Regions from separate parts of the Homo sapiens genome. Here region 1 is linked to region 2. A link means that fine-mapping ties the variant in region 2 to the expression of a gene that starts in the linked region. Tissue or cell type: esophagus mucosa. Region 2 holds a variant in brackets; the other region holds the start of a gene. All regions are shown on one strand. Distances are from middle to middle.

Region 1 (4,238 bases), 51 kb before region 2:
AACATTCACACATGCATACATAGTCACATACTGGACTGTGCTGTTCTAGACCCCTTCTCTGGAAACATTCACACATGCATACATAGTCACCTACTGGACTGTGCTGTTCTAGACCCCTTCTCTGGAAACATTCACACATGCATACATAGTCACATAATTTTGTATACAATTTCAGGGACGGTTAAAAGTATCCTAATTCCCATCCATGGACCCTAGACCCAAATTAAGAATCTCTGAATTAGGAATTTCGTAGTTTTCACCAGGCCCAGCATCTACCACACCATCATTGCACAGGTGGGGAAACTGAGCACCACGTCCTCCTCCAGGCACAGCCAGCTGTCTTCTGGGGGTGAGGGGGTGTCTGGCCCTCCCGTACTGGAGTGGGGCGCTGGGGCTGGGGTCACCTCAAGGAACGTGTTGCTGCGGCTCTGCCTCCCTAGGTTCCCCCAGCGGATCCCGGCGGGCGTATGGGGATGACAGGGGCAGGGAGGTTAATCAGGACTCCTAAGGTCCCAGGATTCCTCTGGAACGGGCCTAAACAATGGAGGCCACCAAGGACCAGGGAAGTTCTGGTGGGTGGGCTTCAGGACAGACAGTACAATCCCAGCCTTTCCAGTCACCAGCTGGGTGATTCTGTATTGCTTTGTCTGTGACCCACTTGAAATGACTTGTTCTTTGTAGTTTTCTACATATTACATTTACTTCTTTCCCCCCCACCCCTTTTTTTAAAGAGACAGTGTATCACTCTGTCACCCAGGCTGAAGTGCAAAGGTGCAATTATAGCTCACTGCAGCCTTGAACTCCTGGGCTCAAACAATTCTCCCACCTCAGCCTCCTGAGTAGCTGGGACCATAGACACGTGCCACCATGCCCCATTAATTTAGAAAATTTTTTTGGTAGAGATGGGGTCTCAACATGTTGCCCAGGCTGGTCTCCATTTCCTGGCCTCAAGCAACTCTCCCTCCTTGACCTCCCAAAGTGCCAGGATTACAGGCGTTAGCTGCCATGCTCAACCACTACATTCATTTTTTTATTAAATTTTATATCATGCAAATGACAGATATTTCCACCCAAATAATGTTTACTTGTTCATAGACCATTAGATTCCTGTTTTGGCCAACTCTGAAATAATACATTTTAGATCCACTTGTAGTATTTTAAGATTAACTCAGTTTCATTTGCTTTGAAAAACAACATCATCGCTGTTCAACTGTTTACAGAATTGATGGTAAAATGACTGAATTCATGTCATTTTAGGAGAGCGTTCAGTGCTAATGTGTACACTGAATGCTTTAAGCGGTGAGGTGGCTTCACAAAGTTTACTTCTACAATTTTCATAACCTAAGAATCTCCTGATTGGTCTCTTTTACTTTTATTACAAAGTCTAATTGAAATCCCCTAAATTCTTAGGGCCCGCCGCATGGAGGTGAGGGGCTTGTGGTGGGGAATGTCCAGACCCCTGTGCTGCTCCCTGGAGCTTGCTCAGGTCAGGTGAGGAGGATACACTAGCCCGGGCCTGTCACCACGACTGCTCTTGTTTTCATCCCCTGAACTCCCTGCTGCACAGAGCTGCCCAGGAGGGCTGGCTCCTTGCCTAGTCTCAGGTGCTCAGCCCTCCTCCTCTAGAGGCTGGCCCTGGCTCCAGTGGAGCTGGGGGTTTCCTCAGCTCTACCCCCACCCCATCCTCTGCCCTCAGCCTCAGGGGAACCAGCTTCCTGCCACCACTCCTGGGACTCGTCTGCCTCCCCCTGGCTGCATCTTCTGTCCTGAAACTCCAGGTCTGGAAGAGGTGCTCCGCCTGCAGGTCCTGGAGCCCTGCCAGAGGTTTCTGGAGATGCTGGTTGACCCAGCCTCTTGGGGAAGAGGGGCAGGTGCAGGGCTGAAGGAGCGACCTGGGGGTGGAGCCCCAACCTGTTTATAGGATCGTGGCTCATTGAAGGCTGGCAGATTCATGCTGGTCCTATCCCACTGGGACCGTCGCTGCCACTCAGCCAGAGAGCCAGCATCTTGGCAAGGGCTGGGCCTGGAGTGAAGCTGGAAGGGCTAGCATGGAGAGCCTGTCACCTGGGGGACCACCTGGCCACCCTTACCAGGTAACAGTGTCTGCAGAGCATGTGGGCACCAGTCAGGGCAGGCCTGGAGCCAGGGTGCATTCTGGGAAGTGTGATAGCTGGAATCAGGGTGATTTCAGACTGGGCCAGAGGGCGAGGGAGTCTGAGATTTGGGATGCAGAGTGGGTGGGGTGGGTGAGCAGCATCCGTAGATGCGGGGGCTGGGAAACGTGAGTCTGGTCAGCAGAGCTTCCTCTCCCCACCACCAGCGACCACAGCAGTGTCCTTAGGGACCTCTCCCCCACCATCATCGGAGAACATAGTGGCTGGGTGTGTCACAAAAGGAGACCCACCAGGCCCACAGCCCCACCACCACAGGCCGGCAGACTTCCCAGAACTGGCTGGAGCCCTGGGATCACCCTGTGTGTCTCCAGAGCTCTGGGGGCCCAAATCCCCATCCACTGCCAAGTATTTAGTAGGCCCAAGAGCTGTGGGGCTGCATCCAGGCCAAGGAGGCCTGCAAACTTCTCGCCACCCCCCCACCCTCTGTCATGTGTTTCTCCAAAGCCCAGAGTTTTCATCCTCTGCCAGGGACCAAGGCCAGCAGAGCTGGCTCCTGAGGTCTCCCCCCGGTGCCCCAGGTGGTGGCCAGGAATGAGGCTAAGTGTGTCAAGGTCACTGTCCTGAGGTCCTTTGCCTCATATGCAGACCTCGCTGGGCTTCTAGAGCTGTGGCCCTGAGACCCAGGCCCAAGCTGGATCCAGACAAGCAGCTCCAGACTGGTGCTCCTGGAAGAGGCTCAGCCTGGGGCAGGGCAGACACTAAGGAGCCCTGGGGGAAGATGAGAGGGACCCCTCAGTGAAGGACCACACTGTTGCCCCAGCCTGAGGTCAGGTGGATCCACCCACGAGTCAGACATCAGCGGACATTTGGATGCGGGGGAGTCCACGGATGCAGGCCAGTGGAGGGGCTGGCGGCCCTGGCTCCACCACCCGTCCCATCAGGAGCCCTGAGCCCAGAACGGCCCATTGTGGAGGCTTCTGGAATATTTCCCCCTTTAAACTCATCTCCCTGGCGAAGGCTGTGCCCCTTTCCCCTTTTCCCTCAGCCTGCTCTAGGTCTAGCTCCTGGGTAAAACAAAAGCCTAAGTGTCAGCAATTTGGGAGCCTCAGTCGGCCCCACACCTGGAAAGCACCTCGCCTCCAGCTGGCATTCACAGGACTGAGTCCCCAGGACCAGGTCCTCAAGCTCCAGCCTTCAAGTCGGTTCCTGTGGTTGGCAAGCTTCAGCAGCGGTTTAGCCTAGCCTCATTTCTGCTGGAACAGGGGCCTGGAACCTGCCCCAGAGCGGGACCTGGGCCAGCAGGCTAGGCTGGCCATCCGGGACCTGTTCTGGAACGTGCCTGCCGTGTGGTCCAGGAGACTCAGCCCAGCCTGAGGGAGGTGCAGGGCCTGGGGCTGTGCCCAGGGGTTCCACTCCTCTTCTCTCTGACCTCCTGCATTGCCCCACCACAGGGCGCCAGTGCCAGCAGACGACAGGGTGGGTCTGCTCATTTCTCTCTTCCTGCCGAACACCCAGGATCACGGGCAAGGATACTCTGGACCCCAGCTGGGGAGACCCAACCCCCTTAAGCTCTCTTGGGCCACATCTCCCAAGATGGGCACGGGGCAGCACAGAGCCTCTCACAAAACTTCCTGGCAAACGTGTGCCCTGGGCCTCTCCACCGGAAGAAGGATGGCCCAGAGCCTCTGGGGTCCCTGCGCAAGGTTCAGAGTGGCTGAGACCCTCAGCAGGGAGGCATTCGGGGGATCCTACAGGTGACTGGGCTGACGAATTTCCTCCAGAAGCCTCCGGGTTAGTCATCAATTAAGGAGGTATTTCAGATGGGAGGAGCTTTCAGAAGGGAATGTGACGCCCCTATGCCCTCAGGGGAAAAGATTCATATCAGTTAAAGTGTCGGTTATCTCAGTAATCATATTAGTCAAATCTGTGACAAATCTATGAATATCTGTTAGTCAAATTAGACAAATCTATGAAAATCTAGTGTCTAGATATCCTAGATATCCGTGGGGCAATGAGGGAAGAGTTGCATGCTTTTCCAAAGAAGCAAAAGTCCTGGGAAGGTAGAATAGACGGGGGTTGTGAGCTCTGGCCTGGAAGTTTGAATTCTAACTCTGTCCCTGCTAA
Region 2 (4,238 bases):
TCTAAAGGATAAAGAGACAGAAGCGAAGGGGAAGAAGTCTGTGCTCTCCCGTTTTCCACCTTTCAGATGCCCGGCAAGGATGAAGAGCCATCAGAGTAGATGCAAAGCAGCAGGCAGTGAGGCTGGAAGCAACCCATGAGAAAGTGGTGTCCTGGGAGCCAAGAGACTTTTTCCATAAACATCCCGTTATCTTTCTGAGCACAGAGCAGGTGGTCAGTAAATACTCTCAGAAAGCACAAGCTCTGCAGCTGCTTGTTCATGCCTTTTCATCCCCCGGCACTGCCGTGGAGTGCCGGTGCTGCCTGGGTGGCTGGCTGCTGGCCTGGGAACCTAACAGCTCCCTACTATCTCTTGCATCTCATGAGAGGCAGAGGCCTCCGCCCACTCCAGGGGCCCCACCCCACCCCATCCTCCCGGTTTCACACTCTTGGCCCCCAGCTCATGCCCTTCCCTCTCAGCAGGGCTTGCCCTACTCTGTGCCACCCACGTGGAGTGAGGCAAGCTCATTCCTACTTCTTTCCCCAGTTCTGCTACCTCCCATCGTAGAGGGTCTCCCTTCCCCAGCTGCCACCTTTCCAAACCTTGCCCCTAACTCAAGGCTCAGCCCCCTGAGACTCCCCACCGGCCTCCACGTGGGATCTTGACAGCCTCCCCTTCAAGACCAGCCCTGTGTACCTTCACCTGCTGGGTCACTGGAGCCCACTGGATGCCCTCATATCTAATCTATCCTGCCGGGTCACTGAAGCCCACTGGATGCCCTCATATCTAATCTATCACCATGCCGTGTAGGTTCTGCTCAGAAATACCTCTCGAGTCCACCACTGCTTCCATCTCTGCCCCCTACCCGGGCCCAAGTGACCATTTGCTTCCCATCTGAGCCACTACAACACATCTTCCTGTCCCTGTCCTGCCCAATTCTGTCCCCACCCAGCAGCCAGATGATCTCATTCACATCACTTCCTTTCTTTTTTTTTTATTATACTTTAAGTTTTAGGGTACATGTGCACAACATGCAGGTTTGTTACATATGTATACACGTGCCACGTTGGTGTGCTGCACTCATTAACTCATCATTTAGCATTAGGTATATCTCCTAATGCTATCCCTCCCCCCTCCCCCCATCCCACAACAGGCCCCAGTGTGTGATGTTCCCCACCCTGTGTCCAAGTGTTCTCATTGTTCAGTTCTCACCTGTGAGTGAGAACATGCGGTGTTTGGTTTTTTGTCCTTGCTTAATACCCTTCGGTGGCATCCAGTTTCTTAAGATAAAATCCCAAATCTTGACCATGGCTTCCAAGGCCTCTCTGACCTCATCACTCCTTCCTCACCGTGCCCCAGACACAGGTGCTCAGTTTCTGAACACGCCAGCCTTTTCCACTCCTCAACGCCTTGCACTGCTGTACCTTCAGCCTGGGGGACTCTCCCCACAGCCCGCATGTAGCTAACCCCGATTTTCCTACAGGTTTCAGCTTCAAGGCTGCTTCCTCTGGGAGGTCATCCCTGACGTCTCCCCAAATCAGAATCCGTTCCCGTCTTTCGTAGCACCCTGTTACTTTCCTTCCTGATTCTTATCGCAGTTGATGGTTAGAAATTATTTTCTTTCAAAGCTACTTCACTAGAAGCTTCCCAAGAGCAGGCACCATGTTGATTTTGATACTCGGAACCTGTAGCACAGTGCCTAGCATTTAGGAGGTGCTCAAATGTCTC[T/C]GTCATCAGTGAACAAAGCTTTCACTGACTTCTCCAGCCCATGCCAACCTTGAGGTTCTTTGCGGTCCAAGTACACTTACGGTTAGTTCTTTCCAATTTATTTGTCCTGTAGCAAAAAGAATAACAGTAACCATGACAATTTATTAAGGTTTATGACATGCCAGATTCTGTGTGCCAGATGTATATGTACGGTGTTTATGTATATATAATATATAATCTTTACAACAATCCTGTGAAATCAGTACTATTAACTCCATTTTACAGATGAGGAAAGTGAACAGTGAGTTTCAGAGAGATAAAGTAATTGCTGACTGCTGCCCCAGTAAGTGCCAGAGCCAAGATACGCACTCGGGTCTCTCTAACTCTAGATCTCCTGCTCTTTCCTCTACATTTGTCTTATGGGTCTTGCCTGTGAACTTCTGTTGTTGTTGTAAGCTTTTTGTCACTGGCCTCTTTGGTTTGTGGTTGTTTTTTTTTTTTTTTTTTTTGTATCCTCCATCACCATGCTCCCTAAATACCTACCATTTGTGAGGATGTGTCTATTAGCAGGTGAGAGCCACCCAGGACAAGAGACTCCATGTTCGCATCAGACTTGCCCCACGAGATGAGTTTCAGGGCTGGTTCTGAGAAAGGCCGAGTGGATGGCCACCCACAGGTCCTGACCTACGGGTGCCCACAGGCCCACCTTCCTCACATATTTCCCTCACTAGGCCAGGCTGGCCCTTCCCTGTTCCCTCCTCCCTGCCTAGTAAAGTTCCCACCGTCAGAGCCACCTACCTCTTAGGCAACAAAGGTGGGCCTGGCCTCCGGAAGGCCTCTCCCACATGCTTCCAGCAGCTGACAGGGTGAGCAAGCTGTCTTCTGAATCTGGGGCATGGTGGGATGGAGAGTAACAGACTCTCAAAACTGGAACAGATCATTAGGTTTCCAGAGCCACCCCCGCTTGCCCAGTGTAGGAGTCTCCTCTGCACCTTCCAGGCAGGAACCCCTTGCATAATTCTAAGAATGGAAGCTTATTACCTTCCAAGTGACTAAGTTCTTTCTTACACCAAGGTCAAATCTACCCACTCAGAAAGGCCCTATTTCCACCATCAGGTCAGGCACAATATCAGTCTAACCCTTTCTGGTGCTTGACTGCCCTTTTCATACCTGAAGTTGCCTTCCTTGCTCTATAGTTTCAAGCCCCTGCTGGCCTGGGCTCCAGTATCTGCTTCAGTCACATTTTCAGTGAGCCACGGCTCTGCCCCCTTCCTTGCCCAATGAGTGGATGTTTCACCCAAGGCAAAGAGAAGGATCTGGTTGGTGGGCAGATGGCCAGCTGCTTAGTAGAAGGAAGAAAGGGCTTCCCAGCTCTTGAGAAAAAATTCCTTCCCTGGGTGGGTTTGCCTGACCCCACCTCAAGCTACACCTCCTGCTACTCCCAGAGGATGGCCATGGGAGAAGATACTTTTAACAGAGCTGACATATATAAATATCTGGTATGGTGGCCTGGGACATGGTAGGCATGAAATAAATGTTAGCTTTCTTTCCCTGTCTCTAAATGCATTTTTTGCTTTATTTAAAGAGCAACTTTATTTATAATAATGTTCTTTTTACAAAATTGTTCTTCTGATTATAAATAATATATGTATTCAGTATAGACATTACAAAATTTGAAAAATGTAATAGAGAAAATAAACATTGCCAATAACATCATCCAGAAATAACTTCCTGAACCCTTAATATACTTCCTTCCAGTCTTTTTTATAGGCACATATATTTAGAAATAAATTTTCTTTATATATACGTATATTGATATATGTAAAATTAAGCTCGTATTGTAAAACTTGTCATTTCTACATATCAGTGAATAGTGATTAATTTTTCTCTGCTATTAAAAACCAGATTTTTGAAAATGGCTACATAACATAACATCATATCATCTAGGTTGTTTCCAATTTCTGATGCTATGACCATTTGGAGTGTGCTATGAACACCCAAAAGCCTAGAAAATGTCATTGATATGCAAATTACAATGATTCCTCTCCACTCCTTGTCAAGTTGGCAGAGAAGTCAAGATTTCCCTCCAAATAGCCCAGAGAATTCGCATGGCCATTGTCCCCGTCCATGAGACAGACCCCCATCATTTGTCTGCTGACTTGAAACTTTACAAAAGCCTCTCTGCTGATTTGCCCAGGCTAAAGAATGCATCTGCCCTGTCAGGAGCAATGAGGAGGGTCCCTCAGCAAAGGGACCTGGTGACCAAGTGTCTGTTGATAATGATGCAGCTCTGTCCCTCCACACACACACACAGAGCCAGTTCCCCTCAAAGAGACCCACGGTAGCAAAGTGAATAAGCATGAAAGAGTGGTTCTGATAAGGTAAACCCCAATACTCAGTACAGGACACTGGTCTAAACTTCCCTCTTCTTTAGGGCATATTTCCTCTCTGGAACTCCCAGTGTCCTTCCTTGTCATCTGACTTCAATGGGTCTCCTGGGGAGGTCTCTTTAGTTCATCATATACACTGCAATAACTTGAATCCTCAATGAG

What was found. PIP is the estimated chance that this variant, and not a neighbour inherited with it, causes the effect.
Region 1: it holds the start of PLA2G4D, and the variant in region 2 is the best candidate, but not a certain one, in a credible set for the expression of PLA2G4D in esophagus mucosa (GTEx, PIP 0.62).

Annotation. Positions count from the first base shown.
Region 1 is chr15:42,092,270-42,096,507 of GRCh38, reverse strand. PLA2G4D (phospholipase A2 group IVD) reads left to right here and starts at 1,946. Exons shown (of 20, transcript NM_178034.4): 1 at 1,946-2,093. The coding sequence starts at 2,049. RefSeq lists enhancers at 2,147-3,121, 4,096-4,238.
Region 2 is chr15:42,041,522-42,045,759 of GRCh38, reverse strand. It overlaps LOC105370793 (a long non-coding RNA gene), which reads right to left and starts at 2,933. Exons shown (of 3, transcript XR_932177.1): 1 at 2,857-2,933; 2 at 2,485-2,574; 3 at 1,170-1,813. It also overlaps a transcript of PLA2G4E not described here. RefSeq lists a silencer at 252-412. The variant T/C (reference allele first, on the strand shown) is at 1,708.